4 separate regions of the Homo sapiens genome follow, and regions 1, 2 and 3 are each reported to be linked to region 4. Evidence: microRNA targets listed by miRTarBase, many of them from high-throughput screens and not tested one by one. Region 4 holds a microRNA gene; each other region holds the end of a gene's coding sequence.

Evidence for each region. Region 4 holds the annotated microRNA hsa-miR-34a-5p (UGGCAGUGUCUUAGCUGGUUGU, at 2,913-2,934, opposite strand). A microRNA usually pairs through its seed, bases 2 to 8, with sites in the 3' UTR of a target mRNA and lowers its output. Matches are read on the target gene's strand: a 7mer-m8 pairs with bases 2 to 8, a 7mer-A1 pairs with bases 2 to 7 and ends in A, and an 8mer does both.
Region 1: miRTarBase lists FOSL1 as a target of hsa-miR-34a-5p. Seed matches in the 3' UTR shown: 8mer at 3,241-3,248 and 8mer at 3,140-3,147.
Region 2: the mRNA of DLL1 is a reported target of hsa-miR-34a-5p. Seed matches in the 3' UTR shown: 7mer-m8 at 1,005-1,011, 7mer-m8 at 1,101-1,107 and 7mer-m8 at 1,164-1,170.
Region 3: miRTarBase lists BMP3 as a target of hsa-miR-34a-5p. Seed matches in the 3' UTR shown: 8mer at 3,371-3,378 and 7mer-A1 at 427-433.

The regions. Positions count from the first base shown.
Region 1 is chr11:65,889,310-65,893,374 of GRCh38, forward strand. It overlaps FOSL1 (FOS like 1, AP-1 transcription factor subunit), which reads right to left. Exons shown (of 4, transcript NM_005438.5): 4 at 2,740-3,987. The coding sequence ends at 3,577. It overlaps CCDC85B (coiled-coil domain containing 85B), which reads left to right and starts at 1,364. Exons shown (of 1, transcript NM_006848.3): 1 at 1,364-2,326. The coding sequence starts at 1,475. The coding sequence ends at 2,083. RefSeq lists a silencer at 1,155-1,634 and enhancers at 2,775-2,824, 2,865-3,024.
Region 2 is chr6:170,279,617-170,283,681 of GRCh38, reverse strand. It overlaps DLL1 (delta like canonical Notch ligand 1), which reads left to right. Exons shown (of 11, transcript NM_005618.4): 9 at 1-451; 10 at 577-694; 11 at 803-1,476. The coding sequence ends at 808. Among named protein-coding and RNA genes, the nearest start is that of LINC01624, 9.2 kb to the right of the region's middle. RefSeq lists an enhancer at 339-1,538.
Region 3 is chr4:81,052,936-81,057,000 of GRCh38, reverse strand. BMP3 (bone morphogenetic protein 3) reads right to left here. Exons shown (of 3, transcript NM_001201.5): 3 at 1-3,656. The coding sequence ends at 3,465. Among named protein-coding and RNA genes, the nearest start is that of BMP3, 24 kb to the right of the region's middle.
Region 4 is chr1:9,148,823-9,152,887 of GRCh38, forward strand. MIR34A (microRNA 34a) reads right to left here and starts at 2,955; the gene lies at 2,846-2,955. MIR34AHG (MIR34A host gene) reads right to left here. Exons shown (of 2, transcript NR_132742.1): 2 at 1-3,013. RefSeq lists a silencer at 2,764-3,000.

The DNA of each region.
Region 1 (4,065 bases), not on the chromosome of region 4:
CAGCCGTCTTTCTGCTTAGCTCTCCTTGCTCTTGCTCTTTGACACCGTTACTAATCTCCCTGTTTATGTCCCCTCCCCGCAGGGTCCGGCCCACACAGATCAGCCCAATCTTTTTAAATACATTTTTTTTTTCGAGACAGCGTCTCGCTCTGTCGCCCAGGCTGGAGTGCAGTGGCGCGATCTCGGCTCACTGCAACCTCCGCCTCCCGGGTTCAAGCAGTTCTCTGCCTCAGCCTCCCGAGTAGCTGAGATTACAGGCTCCTCCCACCACGCCCGGCTAATTTTTGTATTTTTAGTAGAAACGGGGTTTCACCATCTTGGCCAGTTAAAGGCATATTTTAAAATGTTACTCCCTTGCTTAACATCCTTACAAATGTTACTCTCTTGCTTAACATCCTTAGTGGCCTTTGGAAATGCTCCAACCTGGTACTGGAAGTTCTTAAGAATCTGGCTTTTACCTACCTTTGAAGCCTCGCTCTCTCTCTCTTAGCATTTTCTCGACACATCTGCTTTTCAAAAACCAAGCTATCCTCATTGTTCCTAAAGCAGCTAGGCTCTTTCGGGCACCAGTGTCTTTCACTATGTTATTCTCTCTCCCTGAAATAGCTCTTTACTTGGCAAAGTCCTATGGATCTACCAGAGCCTCTTGGATAGCATCTCTTTTGGGAACCCTCTTAAGGACCCTCAGACCATACTCCTCCCGGATTTATTTCTTGCTTAACACAGCTTGACTTCCCGGACAGACTGCGACCTCCTTGAGGATGGAATCGGTATTTTGGTTAAATTTATTTCTGCATGGGCCTTGCACATAAAAAACGTTTATTGAACAAACGAATCCTGTATGTTCCTCCCCCCAGGCAGGAAACGCTCCCTGGGAGGGAGGGTAGTCTATTGGTGAGCTAGGACGTTTGGACTCAGGGTTCCGAGGAACCAGGAGCGATCCTTAGTGGGCCGAGACTTCCGAATTTGATCAAAGGTAAAGAGGGACTGGAGAGCGGTCCATCTGACTTCTGTGGGGGATGGGCAGGAGTCAGGGGCGGACGCCTGAATCTTGTTTCTCAGAAGAGCCGAGAGGCCTAGGCTCAAGCTTGGGGCGATCCGGTACTTGGAGGTTCGAAGCTCCTAGTTTCGGGTTGAGACCGATGTGGAGGGCGATGACGCGCGGGTTCCTTGACATCGAGGATCAGTAACACCCGGAGTGGGTGGGGAACGAGGGGGGCGGCCCCTGAGCTCAGGCCCCGCCCCTTTCCGGGGACGTTTCACCGGATTGGCTGTCCTTCCATAACGACATGCGGCCCCGCCCCGGCGCGCGCCCCGCCGCGTGCCCAGCCCGGGTAGCTGCTGCAGCCTACGCTGCCTCGGCCACTGCCTGCCGCGTGCGGAGCCGGAGCCCGAGCCTGAGTGGCGCCGGGCCCGACGTGGGGCTCCTGGGCCGCGGCGGCGGGCGGGCGATGCTCCAGAGGCCTGACCAGCCATGGAGGCCGAGGCAGGCGGCCTGGAGGAGCTGACGGACGAGGAGATGGCGGCGCTAGGCAAGGAAGAGCTAGTGCGGCGCCTGCGGCGGGAGGAGGCGGCGCGCCTGGCGGCACTGGTGCAGCGCGGCCGCCTCATGCAGGAGGTGAATCGGCAGCTGCAGGGCCACCTGGGCGAGATCCGCGAGCTCAAGCAGCTCAACCGGCGTCTGCAGGCAGAGAACCGTGAGCTGCGCGACCTCTGCTGCTTCCTGGACTCGGAGCGCCAGCGCGGGCGGCGCGCCGCACGCCAGTGGCAGCTCTTCGGGACCCAAGCATCCCGGGCCGTGCGCGAGGACCTGGGCGGCTGTTGGCAGAAGCTGGCCGAGCTGGAGGGCCGCCAGGAGGAGCTGCTGCGGGAGAACCTAGCGCTTAAGGAGCTCTGCCTGGCGCTGGGCGAAGAATGGGGCCCCCGCGGCGGCCCCAGCGGCGCCGGGGGATCAGGAGCCGGGCCAGCACCCGAGCTTGCCTTGCCCCCGTGCGGGCCCCGCGACCTAGGCGATGGAAGCTCCAGCACTGGCAGCGTGGGCAGTCCGGATCAGTTGCCCCTGGCCTGTTCCCCCGATGATTGAAGGCACTGCTTCCTCCACGCCGACGCCCGCCCGGATTGCTCCCCGAGCCCCGGGACCGCTGTGGACCTCGGGACCTGGACGCCGTCCTGGCTGCGCAGGAGGGGCCGCTGGCATGGACTAAGAAATCCTGACACCAAGAAGGGCCCCTCGCTCTTGCTGGCAGGGCAGCAGGGGGACTGAAGGCTGGAGCGGAGGGACTTGCTGGGGGTTGGATTGGGGGTAATAAACCCGGACGGAAGCGGAGCCCACGGCCTGGGCAGCGTCTGTTTGGTACTCGCCGGGGTTGGGGCGAGGGTGGGGTGCTGATACAGGGTACAATTCCCATCCAGAAGGACTGCAGAACTAATGATTCCCCCATTACTTCGAGCCTGGGGTGGGATGCGGGGCAGTGGTAAACCAGACTTCCCCCATCGGGCGCCGGGACCGGCCTTAATCCAGCCCCTGAAGTGGCTCCAGCTCCCTTCCCGGCTCCTTCCTGTCCAAGACAATGGGGCAGGAAGCAGGTGCTGGGGGCCTAGAACCACTCGGCCGCCTCCTCTGAGGCTGGAAGGGGGCATAACAGCGCCCCTCCGTGGCACACGCAGCAGCACTGTGGGCCCCCACGGGGAGAGGGGCGGTAAGCCTCTTCGCTTTTACCCCAGAGGACTGTCTCCCCTCAGTCCCGGAGATGAGGCCGAGCGGATGTAGCCCCACTTGTCAGATAAGACAAAGTCCAAAAATATCAAAGAATTTGTCCAAGGTCATGCAGTGAGTCTGTAGAGCTAAGGCTGGGACCTAGGGCTCCAAATACTCTCCCATTGGCCTCTGGGTCCAGTGAGGCACTCAGGCCACAGCTTCAAGCCTTTTATTCCATTTTGGTAGGTTTGTATAAAAATACTCTCTTTAGGAAAATAAATAGCAGCTGCCCTCGCTGTGGAGGCTTGGATTCCCTGGAGCTGAAGGCTTCTCAAAGCTGAGATCCGCAGATCAGCTCATCACAGAAGCCAAGGGCGCCTCCTGAGCTGTGCGGTTCAGGAGGGGGCGGCAGAATGGCCTGGTCCAATCACCTGCTGCTGCTGGCAGTGGGGCTGGTGAGTTAGTGTTCTAGGTGGGTAAAGTGGCACCTTCTGTCAGGAGATAGGGTTGGGTGGATCACAGGAAGAGGGTGATGGAGAGTGTGGCAGTGATCTGGAAGGGGTTAGGGCTCCAGAGGACCTCTAAGGATCTACAAAGTCTCTGGGCTGCCAGGATTCCTCTGGCACAAATGGGAAATATTTTGTCTCTGATTTAGTGCAAATTGTGCTAGAGAGGCCAGCTCAAGAGAAACAGTGGGCAGCTTTGGTGGCCCCAAGCTGGCTCTACTGTGAAGCACAATATGGTCAGTCTCATTAGAGGGATGGAGAAGAAGTTGCTGGAGTTGGATGTGGGATACTGTCCAGGCCAGCTGGACCGGTGGGGGAAGGGGAGGAGACATTGGCTAGGGTGGCATCTGCAGGGAGTAGGGCTCAGGCGCCTCACAAAGCGAGGAGGGTTGGAGAGCCAAGGGGGTCAGAGGATGGGTCTCCGCTGCTGCTGCTACTCTTGCGATGAGCTGAGGCACAAGGCTCAGGAGTGCTGGGGTAGGTGAAGACCAGGCTGGGGGTGAAAGGAGTTAGGGAGGGTGTGGTCATGAGTGTGGGGGTGTGCAGTGCCTCAGGTTCAAGCACAGGCCCTGGGGAAAGGGAGATACAAGGTACAGGGCGGCAGGGGGCTGGTGGGCTGCTGGTGCCACTGGTACTGCCTGTGTCCCCCTCCTTGGCTCCTTCCGGGATTTTGCAGATGGGTCGGTGGGCTTCCAGCACCAGCTCTAGGCGCTCCTTCTGCTTCTGCAGCTCCTCAATCTCTCGCTGCAGCCCAGATTTCTCATCTTCCAGTTTGTCAGTCTCCTGTAGAAGATCAGGAGAGGAGTCAGAAAGGTGAGGGCTGAATACCCCAGAGCCGCAGACGTTTGGACTCAGGGTTCT
Region 2 (4,065 bases), not on the chromosome of region 4:
CTGAGAAGCTAGAGGGCCAGGGCGGGCCATTCCCCTGGGTGGCCGTGTGCGCCGGGGTCATCCTTGTCCTCATGCTGCTGCTGGGCTGTGCCGCTGTGGTGGTCTGCGTCCGGCTGAGGCTGCAGAAGCACCGGCCCCCAGCCGACCCCTGCCGGGGGGAGACGGAGACCATGAACAACCTGGCCAACTGCCAGCGTGAGAAGGACATCTCAGTCAGCATCATCGGGGCCACGCAGATCAAGAACACCAACAAGAAGGCGGACTTCCACGGGGACCACAGCGCCGACAAGAATGGCTTCAAGGCCCGCTACCCAGCGGTGGACTATAACCTCGTGCAGGACCTCAAGGGTGACGACACCGCCGTCAGGGACGCGCACAGCAAGCGTGACACCAAGTGCCAGCCCCAGGGCTCCTCAGGGGAGGAGAAGGGGACCCCGACCACACTCAGGGGGTGCGTGCTGCGGGCCGGGCATCAGGAGGGGGTACCTGGGGGGTGTCTTCCTGGAACCACTGCTCCGTTTCTCTTCCCAAATGTTCTCATGCATTCATTGTGGATTTTCTCTATTTTCCTTTTAGTGGAGAAGCATCTGAAAGAAAAAGGCCGGACTCGGGCTGTTCAACTTCAAAAGACACCAAGTACCAGTCGGTGTACGTCATATCCGAGGAGAAGGATGAGTGCGTCATAGCAACTGAGGTCAGTGCAGGCAGCAGCCGCTCCCTCCTCCTCGGCATGGGAGCACCTGAAGCTGGAGCACGGGAATCGGTCTCAGGCTAACTTCCCATTTGTCTTGTGGCCCCCCAGGTGTAAAATGGAAGTGAGATGGCAAGACTCCCGTTTCTCTTAAAATAAGTAAAATTCCAAGGATATATGCCCCAACGAATGCTGCTGAAGAGGAGGGAGGCCTCGTGGACTGCTGCTGAGAAACCGAGTTCAGACCGAGCAGGTTCTCCTCCTGAGGTCCTCGACGCCTGCCGACAGCCTGTCGCGGCCCGGCCGCCTGCGGCACTGCCTTCCGTGACGTCGCCGTTGCACTATGGACAGTTGCTCTTAAGAGAATATATATTTAAATGGGTGAACTGAATTACGCATAAGAAGCATGCACTGCCTGAGTGTATATTTTGGATTCTTATGAGCCAGTCTTTTCTTGAATTAGAAACACAAACACTGCCTTTATTGTCCTTTTTGATACGAAGATGTGCTTTTTCTAGATGGAAAAGATGTGTGTTATTTTTTGGATTTGTAAAAATATTTTTCATGATATCTGTAAAGCTTGAGTATTTTGTGATGTTCGTTTTTTATAATTTAAATTTTGGTAAATATGTACAAAGGCACTTCGGGTCTATGTGACTATATTTTTTTGTATATAAATGTATTTATGGAATATTGTGCAAATGTTATTTGAGTTTTTTACTGTTTTGTTAATGAAGAAATTCCTTTTTAAAATATTTTTCCAAAATAAATTTTATGAATGACAACCAGAAGGCGTAGTTACTTGGCTTTGCCTTAGAGCGGAGGTGTGCTCACTCACCTGCGGCCCGCGAGGCTGAGGGCAGAGGTGGCCTTGGTGTTTCTCTTTTCAAGGCTTTGGTTTCCCTGGATCCATGAGAAGCAGCCCGTTCCTCTCCTCCCTCAGGAAGCTGCTTGCTGGCCATCATGAGGTGACTTGGTAAGAGCAGGCACGCGCATGAAGCAGCCGCGATTTTCTAATTCCATCCCCCCATGCATTTATTAGTTCTTTCCGCAGAAAGAATGAGCGTTCCTCATTCATTCATTCATTCATTCATTCATTCATTCATTCATGTCAGTGTAGACTTGTGAGTTATTTTGTACCCAGTGGGTCACAGCTGTCATGATTTTGTCGCCGTTTGACGCCAACATGGCCCCAGACGGGGCGTGGGAGTCACGGAAGCTGCTCCTCCGCTTCCCGTCGGTGGGCAGCCCCGTCTCTAAGCGCGTCCCGCCTGCTGGCTCAGCAGGACCGCACGGGCTCCCTGTGGGCTGACCCCTCATTTGCCGCTTTGCCCCCCGCTAAGCCCGGGTTCCTTATGGTAGTGATTGCATTTTTAACTTGCGCGTACCTCAAAGCGCTGAGCGGTTCCCAGGATGGAAAGAGGGCGACCGATGTAGCAGGAGCTGCGCGGAGGCACTGGCGCTCACTCCCCTCAGACCCGACTCCGCTTGCATTTCCTCCTTGCATTAAGGGCACGTTAAATGCCAGGCCAGCAACACCAGCAAAGAGGAGAAGTGTTTTGCTAAGAACATTGAGCTTGAATCCGATGACAGCTCTCAGTCTCATTACCAGTTACGGAAACACGGGACTGAAAACTCCTTCCTCGACGCCCCACGCATCTGCGCAGCCGAATCCAGGGAACTCTGTAGCCAAATAAATTGCAAGGAAAAAACAAGAAAATGGTGAGGGGGAACCCATAGATACAAAGAGACACGGACATATCAATCCATCGCAGCGTCTGGATCTGGTTCCTGTTTCAAACAGTTTAAAAATTTTATGAACCCACTGGAGACATGTAAGCGCTGACTGGGATATCCACATGATTTTAAAGTGCACCTGCTAAATAGTTTAGATGTGATGTGTTATTACTGTTCAGTTTAAAAAGAGACCTTATCTTTTAGAGAAAATTCTGAAATATTTATGGATGAAACAATACGAGGCCTGGGACTGATTCGGAGCCCCCCGCCGCGGGCACGGTGGCACGGGGAGTCCCACGAGCACTGCTGGGGGTCGCTGCAGCTGGGAGTGGCCCATGGGGGCGCTCACTTCCGTGTTCTTTCCTCTTTCGTACACGTTTGAAACTTCCCATAAGCAAAAGCATTAAGCCGGACCATACAGTGAATACACGCACACGCAAACACGACAGTTTCCGGGTGTGTATGGACCGCCGTGTCTGTGACGTGACCCACAGCAGAATGCATCTGAGGGAGGCTTGCTGTGGTTGCATACGCACATCGCAGATGAGAAATCTTACAAGGCCAAAAGCAAGCCAATTAAACTGGGTGGAGAGCGGGAGTCCGGTCAAGGACGCTGGTAGCAGAGTCTCAGGCTCGCTGGTGGCGCGCCTAGGTGATTGCCCACTCTGCTGAGTCCTTGAAAGGGAAACGGCAGCGTCTGCAGCAGTGCTGGGAGCACCTCCTCCCGTCTGCAGGGGACGGTGCCTTTCAGGGCACGGTTCTGCGCATGTGCTCAGCTGGCGCCAGCGAACGGCTTCCGGCTGCTCTTAGCGTGGAGTTCAAAATCCTTGACTTGGCCTCTCAGGTCATGCACCATCCGGCTCCCGCCTGTCTTGGAGCCTCGTTTCGTTATTCTCCCACGGGTCTGTTACCGCTCGGCTCCAGCCAGCGCCCTGGCAGCCTGGTTCTCCATCCGCCCCCACTCTGCGACTTTGAGTGGGATCTTCCATCTGTCTGGTGACTTCCAGTGTGACCTTCTTCCGCCACGAAAATGACCCGCCTGGGTTACCTGCCGCACGTGATGGTGCTCTTGCAGTTTGCCCTGTGGCATGATTAATTCGTGTAGCTGTTTGTTTAGTGGGCGTGTGTCCCAGGAGACTGCAACCTCAAAGAGGGCGGGCTGTGTTGGCCCTGGTTCACCACTGCAACCCAATCCCCACTTGAGGCTGAAGCAAGAAAACGTTCTCTATCCATGTGAGCTATAATTTGAGAACACACAGACACACACTCAGGACATTTCATCATGAAAGAAGCTTCATTCTCGTGTTCACTCTTACCAATGTCACTAGGAGTTTCGAACCATAACATGAAGCCAAACACAGGGATTATCTGAGCGGATGAACATAGTATTCTGTTTTTATTCTAATAACTGGCTGCCTAGATACAGCCCTGTATATGGTAAGAGTGCGTCTACTTGGTATCCAGCAAACAAAGTGTTATGCATTAGTAATTCCTCAGTCCATGCATTTTACAGAAAAGGCAGAGGGAAGGTAAATCGTTTCCTGAGGAACAGCTGAATGTCTAGAAACGTCAAGATGAAGAGTAGAATTTTGCATGCAAGGACACGCGCCATGAGCACCAGGCCTCACACGCAGGAG
Region 3 (4,065 bases), not on the chromosome of region 4:
TGTGCATAGCTATGCCTAACCCAACTTTGATTCAATAAGAAGTCAATGCCCAGACATTAGTTACTTGTTAGCACAGAGAAAAGTGAAAGCAGAAAGACTAAACTGAAAAACTAAACTGAATGAATTATACAAATATTTTTAATAAATCAGACTCTTAGCAGTATTACTCACATTTGATTGCCTATGAAAATATTAAATGGGCAATAAGAGTTTTATTCAGAAATATTAAGGTAAAAAATCTTAACATATAAATGATCATCAGTTAATATACAGCAAAGGGAATGTAAAAATTTATCTGGAATGTTATAGTCCTGAGATCTGAGGAATCCAGTCTTCCAGTTTAAGTTCTACAATCCCAAATCCTGTAAATTGTATATTATTTACACAGGTTACAACAAAGTATTTTTAAAATATTCTAATTGACTTTGGCAGTCCCTTAATTTGAATTCAAGAGAACAGTTATTGAGAAAAAGAATTCTTTTTATCAAATAAAAAAATTAGCCAGGCATGGTGGCGGACACCTGTAATCCCAGCTACTCAGGAGGCTGAGGCAGGAGAACTGCTTGAACCTGGGAGGTGGAGGTTGCAGTGGGCCGAGATCACGCCACTGCACTCCAGCCTGGGCGACAAGAGTGAAACTCCATTTAAAAAAAAAAAGAAAAAGAATTATTTTTTTCAGTAACTGACTGTGTGTGTGTGTGTGTGCACACTGCATGGGGTAGAGAGATTACTTGTGGGGGAAGAGAGAGAGAGAGTATTATGCATGATTTAGCAAATGGAGTTTATAATTGTAGCTTCTCTTTTCATGAATGCCAATTTAATAATTTAATATCAGGAGATTTCTAAAGCTTCTGTGTAGGAATTATACAGAAACTAGTACCTAACAATTTGTAAAACAGGCACTTACTAAATTTTCTAACTACTCTTAGTAAATCTGTATTAATTAAAATATTAATACATTTACTTCAATCTCTACTACTGAAAGATAATCTTGCTTTATTCTTTGGGAATAAAACTCTTCCAATTTAAACCATAATACATCCTCAATTCATTAGTAAAATGATAGTTACAAAGCACCCAGAAAAACTGCTGGTTAAAACCTATTTCCATTGCTAAGAGATTACCCAAGTTCTTTCATTGTGTTGTAATTTTATATCAATTGCTACTTAAAATATAATCTTAACTAGTTAGTACCTGTAAATTTTATTATGTAGTGGGTTTTTGGCCATTGTGGGGTGCAATCTGTAATAACTAGGCATTGATTCAAATTAAGAAAGGTAATAAACAGGCATTTGGATATAAGAAGGCTAAGAAGTGATACTGGGAATTGCCAGAAGTTTTGGTTGATACAGCTCTAGAAAAAAACCTAAATTTAGAATTTCACCAAATCTACCAATGAAAAAGTTTTCTTTATTGAAAAACAGTACGATCAGGATGGTGGCCACACTCTGGCCCCCTTCTATCATATACTTTTATTTTCAAATGTTTGAGAACATGTATTAAAAAGTAATTTTATCCTCCATCTCACTTTGAATCTTTAATTTTATGCTACTGTAAGAACTAGAAGAAAGCATGGTAACTCAGGCACCAGAACTTCACTCATTTTTTTTAGAACTGGTGTGTCTCACTCACAGAATTAACACACACCCACACCAACATTTGTGTACCCCAAGGTGTCAAAGAGCTTCTTTTCATGAGTTATTCTTTTAATGGGTTTGCAATAAAATACCACTTAAACCAAAGCGAATGCCATACTAATTTACAAACAGCGAAGTATAGGATGTTCTTTCATTTAGTTTATTAAAAGAGGGACTTACAGTGTTTTTATATCTATCACTATCATTCCTTCAAGGAAGACGGGTGTGAAATAGCTGGAATTATAAACTTAACCCTTCCAGCTCATGGCCAGCCTCTTCATTTTACCAGTGAGGACACTAAAGACACACAGGTAACACAGTGCCTTTCACAAAATAGATGCTCAAAACATATTTATTAAATGACTGAACCACCATAATTAGCTACAGGCAGAGACAGAACAAACTCCACGTCTTCTGATACTGCACAGCCTCCAAAATGGCTGAGATATTTCTAAGTATCAGATAAGACGGAACTAAAATGAGGATTAACCACAGATTAACACCAACAATGATCTACGGCCTGAAAGCATTTCCATCACACAAATAAATATAGTGAGAAGAAGGATATTGAAATAATTTTGAAGACTAAAGTTATAAGAGGACACATATATGTATGTGACACATAGAAATGGAAAGCAAAGACAAACAAGTGTCTATATTTGATTCCCATACCTGACGAATAATGTTTTGTAAGCTTTGCTAACTTGTAGATTTCGTGACTGAGCCAAAAGCCCTGATCTATGTGAAAAAGTGCCTGACTTAGATGTGACTGAAGAATGATATTCAATATTTGGTTATGGTTAAATTGGTCATTTAAGAAGATCTTCAATATTCTACCAGTTTTTGGGCCTCAACATCTACCAATAACTTCATAGGAAGTAAAGGCATATCAGGAGAATTAAAGAGTTAATGGCTTTAGGAAGGATTTTTAAATTCAATTTAGAATAAATAAAAGCATTTGTGAAAAAGAAGTACAAAAGAGGAATTACACTTGTGTTTTCAAAAACTAGGTTTCTGATTCCTTTTTCTGGTAGGAAATGAAATGAAAACAACTGTATTTGCAATTAAATAGCTGGGTCAAGTGGTAACTCTCTGTATATGCTCTTGAATTATTCTATCATATTTGGCAAAGTTCTTATAACTGAATGGTGTTTGCCAAAATACAAAATTAAAAAAAATAAAGAATCCTGTGTAAACTGAATTATAAAACCATATTAAGCAAACCATCCTACAGAGGGCACAGGCACCTGGCGCATGTACGCACATACATACACACTAACGCTCAGCATAAACTTTCCATTACACTTAGACAATGACTTGTGGAGGAAAAACAAGGATAAACAAGAGTCTCAAGAACTTAAGAAAAACATCAGAGTTGATTATTTAGCACTTTCTCAGGATTCTAAGGCAATAAGCCTAATTCAAAACGCGAAATTGTTCTCTATTTCCCATTAGTCATTAAATGAGATAAATGACAAGCTATTGCTGCTTCTCCATTCTGTTTTCAAAGAACATTACAAAAATAAACCAGTGTGTTCTCTAACAGTTCTAAAAACAGTTTGATAAGTTGTTGTGTTTGATTACAAAAAGAGAAATAGATGTCCATATTTACTAAAAATCTTGCTTTAAGTTACATTCAGAAACAAATACAGTTCTTTTCCTTGGTGGCAATCTTCAGTCTATTTGCTCATTCCCCTCTGACTATAGAAATAATCTTTTGAAACAAAATGCATTGGCAGTGCAAAAAAAAAAAAAAAAAAAACAGGAAGAAGTCCATAAAAATAAACTAATGATTGAATTAAGCATTCAAATGAGTTCTTTGCCAGGTTATCTGCAAGCGCAAGACTCTACTGTCATGTTAGGGTATACTTTAAGCACTACATTCTTATTTTCATCAAAGAATAAAATACTGAGTGAGGACATCTTTTCTGGTACACAGCAAGGCTCAGGAATCCCAGGAACGACCCCCACAGCTCTCACTATACTCTGGATGGTAGCATGATTTGATGGCTTCAAAGACTAGAGAAAGAAATGAAAGAAGAACACATATGTTAGGTGGAACTGCGTTTCCACTCCTCAGTCCTCATTACACAAAATGCTTATCTAATGAATTTGTTTCAACAATTTAATAAAACCTCTGGCATCATTATACATTAAGCCCAATCGCCTATCCCACCACTACCAAAATGGTTATTATTTATTAAGTGCCTGCTGCATTCCAGGCATATTATATGTAGTATCTCTAATTCTCACAACAAAGCTAACATTTCTTACATTTTACAAAGGCTCAAAAAGCTTAAACGACTTATCTAAGTTCAAATAGCTTGTAAATGGTAGAGGATTTAAACCAAGTTATCTCAGCAAGAATCATTTAATTACAAACAACTTAGCCCCCAAACATGGAATTAATACACTCTACGGTGTTTTC
Region 4 (4,065 bases):
CCCTCTCATCTTCTAGAATTTCTAGAAAGATAAAGAGCTAGATAAGCATCTAGGTACCTTTCTTCTGCTGTTAGCTCTAAAGACAAGTGAATATATCCTAGCTAGGATGTACTCTAAGGAATGCAGAAGTAGGCCGAGTGCAGTGGCTCATTCCTGTAATCCCAGTGCTTTGGGAGGCCGAGGTGGGCGGATCACCTGAGGTCAGGAGTTTGAGTCCAGCCTGGTCAACATGGCAAAGCCCCGTCTCTACTAAAAATACAAAAATTAGCTGGGCGTGGTGGCGGGTGCCTGTAATCCCAGCTACTCGGGAGGCTGAGGCAGGAGAATCACTTGAACCCCCAAGGCAGAGGTTGCAGTGAGCTGAGATGGTACCACTGCCCATTTCAAAAAAAAAAAAAAAAGAATGCAGAAGTAAATTAAATGACCACAAAGAGTTTTTTTTAATTTGAGACAGGGTCTGGCTCTGTCACCTAGGCTGGAATACAGTGGCGCAATCTCAGCTCACTTCAATCTGTGCCTCCTGGGCTCAAGCCATCCCCTGACCTCAGCCTCCTGAGTAGCTGGGACTACAGTCCTGCCACTATGCCTGGCTAATTTTTGTATTTTTTGTAGAGATGTTGCCCAGGCTGGTCTGAAACTCCTGAGCTCAAGGGATCCATCCACCTGGGCCTCCCCAAGTGCTGGGATTACAGGCATGCGCCACCGTGCCCAACCCAGACATCACTTTTATCTGAAGCAACAACTATCTGCTCTTTCTGTTTCCTTACTAATTATCCAGGAACTTTTACAGGTGAACTCTGAGGAGGACAATTTTTATTGTTTTTATGTCAGCATAACTAAAAGTAAAGCTGGATAGGAAGAGGTTACTTGAAAATGATTTCACCTGAACTCAAATGAATAAGCTGGCTACTGCATAAAGCAACAGAGGGGTCCCTTTAATTTAAAAGCTCAGGACTCTGAATCAATTGCTGGTTGGGAGAAGGTAGAGACATTCTTTACTTCTGCCTAGAACTGGGGAAAATGGCGTAGACTTCTGCTCTGAAGCAGTCCTCAGTGCTGCTTCGGTCAGAACTCCCGAGAGGCATCTGAGTGCTGGCCTGTCACTGCGGCTGGCATTCCAGGCATTTCATTGGCCCCACTTCAGCCCACGCCTGGCTCCACGGGGCTGGGCAGCTGAGGGGAGTTTGTGGCAGAGTGGGCATGGGGCACGGCCCGTGCAATGTGCGTTACAAAGGGGCTCTCTCTGAAGCAAGTCCTCTGCACTCCAGTCTATTTGAGGAAGAAAAGGACAATTCCCATAGGGAGGGGGTTTGCTGAAGCAACCAGCTGCCTGGTTTCCTCTCCAGCATTGAGAGGGAGGGAGGGCTGGCTTAACTGGGGGACGGCCTTCTCATCTGGACTGTGTCAAGGCCAAGGTTAGGCTCCAAATTCCAGAAAACCTCTCTGCAGGGTCTTCTTTCAGAGTGGTGAGAATGGAAGCAGGCTCCCTTCCCCTCCAGCACTAGGAAGCCCCGCAATTGGTGAGGTGCAAAGAAAGATGGGCCCAGGCAGGGAGGCGGGAGCAGGGGAGGTGCCCAGGGCAGTGGCTGGAAGGGCAACGGGAGAAGCAGCAGAGGCTGGGGGTGGGGGTCGCAGCAGGTGCTGTCCCTGGCCTGTGTGAAAGGTACTAGAAGGCCCCATCCTTGGTGCCACATGGACCCCAGAGGCTTGTCTTAGTCCATGGGGTCCGAGGTGTAAGACACTTACGTTTGGCGTCACCTCTTAGGCTTGGATGAATTTCAGAAAGTGCTAGACTGGAGAACAGTGGAAAAAATCAGTGGAACAAGATCTGGAGCACTCACTGCTCAATGTCAATGTTAGAGAGCACAACGACACCAATGGGAGGAGGGTGAGGACCAGAGGCTGATTGCATGAGCTCTGTTGGAGTGCAGGACCCACTAACGGGTTATCTCAGGGTTCCTGGAGGCCACGGCTGTGCCTTGTGGTCCAAGACCTGGGGAAGCCACCACTGTGTCTTCCCTCTCCATCCTCCGGTGACTTTGGTCCAATTCCTGTTGCCATGGCAATCAGCCCAGCTGGCCTCACAGTTCACTGGCCTCAAAGTTGGCATCTGTAGGTGAAGCCAGTGGGACCCAGAGAACTTAATTCTTCTCAACTGAGCTGGCTTGGAGGAACTTTTCTCATCAGCCACTGGAGCAGAGAACGTCACCAGCGTCTCACTGACGTCAACATCCTGGGCCTGGCTCTAGCTGAAAAGGAAAATTCTCCCCAAGGCAGACACATCTCCCGAAGCCCACACAGGCACTTTCTATGATTGCACTGGAAATCTGTCTCCTGGGGACAGGGAGCGCGTACGCTCACAGTCAAGTCACAATGTTGAGCAGTCTCCAGGACTCCACGTTCATCTCTAAGAACAGGAGCCGGTGGTTGGGCGCAGATTCTTGAGCCAGATTGCTCGCGTTCAAAACCTGGTCCCTTTTTATTAATTGCATGCTTAGTTACATTTTCTGTTTGTACTTTTGTTTCCTTCTCTGCAAGACGGGGTTAATCACAGACACTTGTACATGATGTAATACACTTACAATACTTAGGACAGGCCTTCCTGCATAGTAAGTGCTCTGCAAACACTGGCTACTATTCTCCCTACGTGCAAACTTCTCCCAGCCAAAAGCCGCCCACACCAAGCCCCTGTGCCTTTTTCCTTCCGCACCCACGAGCAGGCTGCTCCTGGGGCCCTGGAGCTCACTTTCCCAGCCGCCCTCACCACCCACCGTGGCGCAGAAGAGCTTCCGAAGTCCTGGCGTCTCCCACTGGTCTGGGCATCTCTCGCTTCATCTTCCCTCTTGGGCCCCACAACGTGCAGCACTTCTAGGGCAGTATACTTGCTGATTGCTTCCTTACTATTGCTCACAACAACCAGCTAAGACACTGCCAAAGAAACACTCACAGCTGGCCGGTCCACGGCATCCGGAGGGGACTCGGGGGACAGGCCTGTCCTGCCTCTCCCCAGCACCTGTTGATAAGAAGGAAATGTGGGGAGGAAAGAAAGGATGCAGGAGGCCGAGGTGGGAGGATCGCTTCAGGCCAGGAGTTCAAGACCAGCCCAGGCAACTAGCAAGACTCCATCTCTACAAAAAAATTTTAAAAATTAGCCAGGCATGGTGACATGCGTGCCTGTAGTCCTAGCTACTGGAGAGGCCAGGGCAGGAGGATCGCTTGAGCCCAGGGGTTGAGGCTGCAGGGAGCTGTGATTGCGCCAGTCTGGGTGACAGGGTGAGACCCCGTCTCTAAAAATAAAAATTGGGTGATGGCTCACACCTGTAATCCCAGCAATTTTGGAGGCCAAGACAGGAGGATCACTTGAGGCGAGAAGTTCAAAACCAGCCTGGTTAACATAGCCAGACCACCACCTTCAGCAACTGTCTCTACAAAATGAAAATAAAAATAATGAAAGAGAGAGGATGGAGGAGAAGGCTGAGACCAGTAACAGATTCCAAAAGGACTAATTGACAAGGAGAAAAAGAGTCAGCACTTCCCTGGAAGAGAAAAAATTCGAAAAGGACAGTGGTTGAAAAGTCAGCATGTCTGCGTGAAAGGGAAGCAATGAAGTAGCGCCAACTCCTCCCCCGTCCCGGGCACCGTTTAGGGAGAGGATCAGAGTTCTGCCAGAGAATCAGAACCAGAAGGAGATATAGATTAAGTTTATTTCAAGGAATCGGCTTACGTGATTGTGGGGGCTGGCTAGGCAAGTCTGAAATCCAGAGGGCAGGCCAGCAGGCCGGAAGCTCCCCGGAGGAGCTGACACTGCAGTCCCCAGGCAGGATTTCTTCTTCTTCAGGGAAACCTCGGTTCTGCTCTTGAGGCCTTTCAACCGATTGCATGAGGCCCACCCACCTCGCAGAGGAGAACCTTTGACTTACAGCCAGTGATCATCAGTGCTGACCACATGTACAACGCACCTCACAGTAGCACCCAGGCAAGCGTTTGGTTGAATCATGGGTATCACAGCCTCGCTAAATTGACAAGGAAATTGCCCATCACAGGGTTTAAGATCTAGTGCTTTAA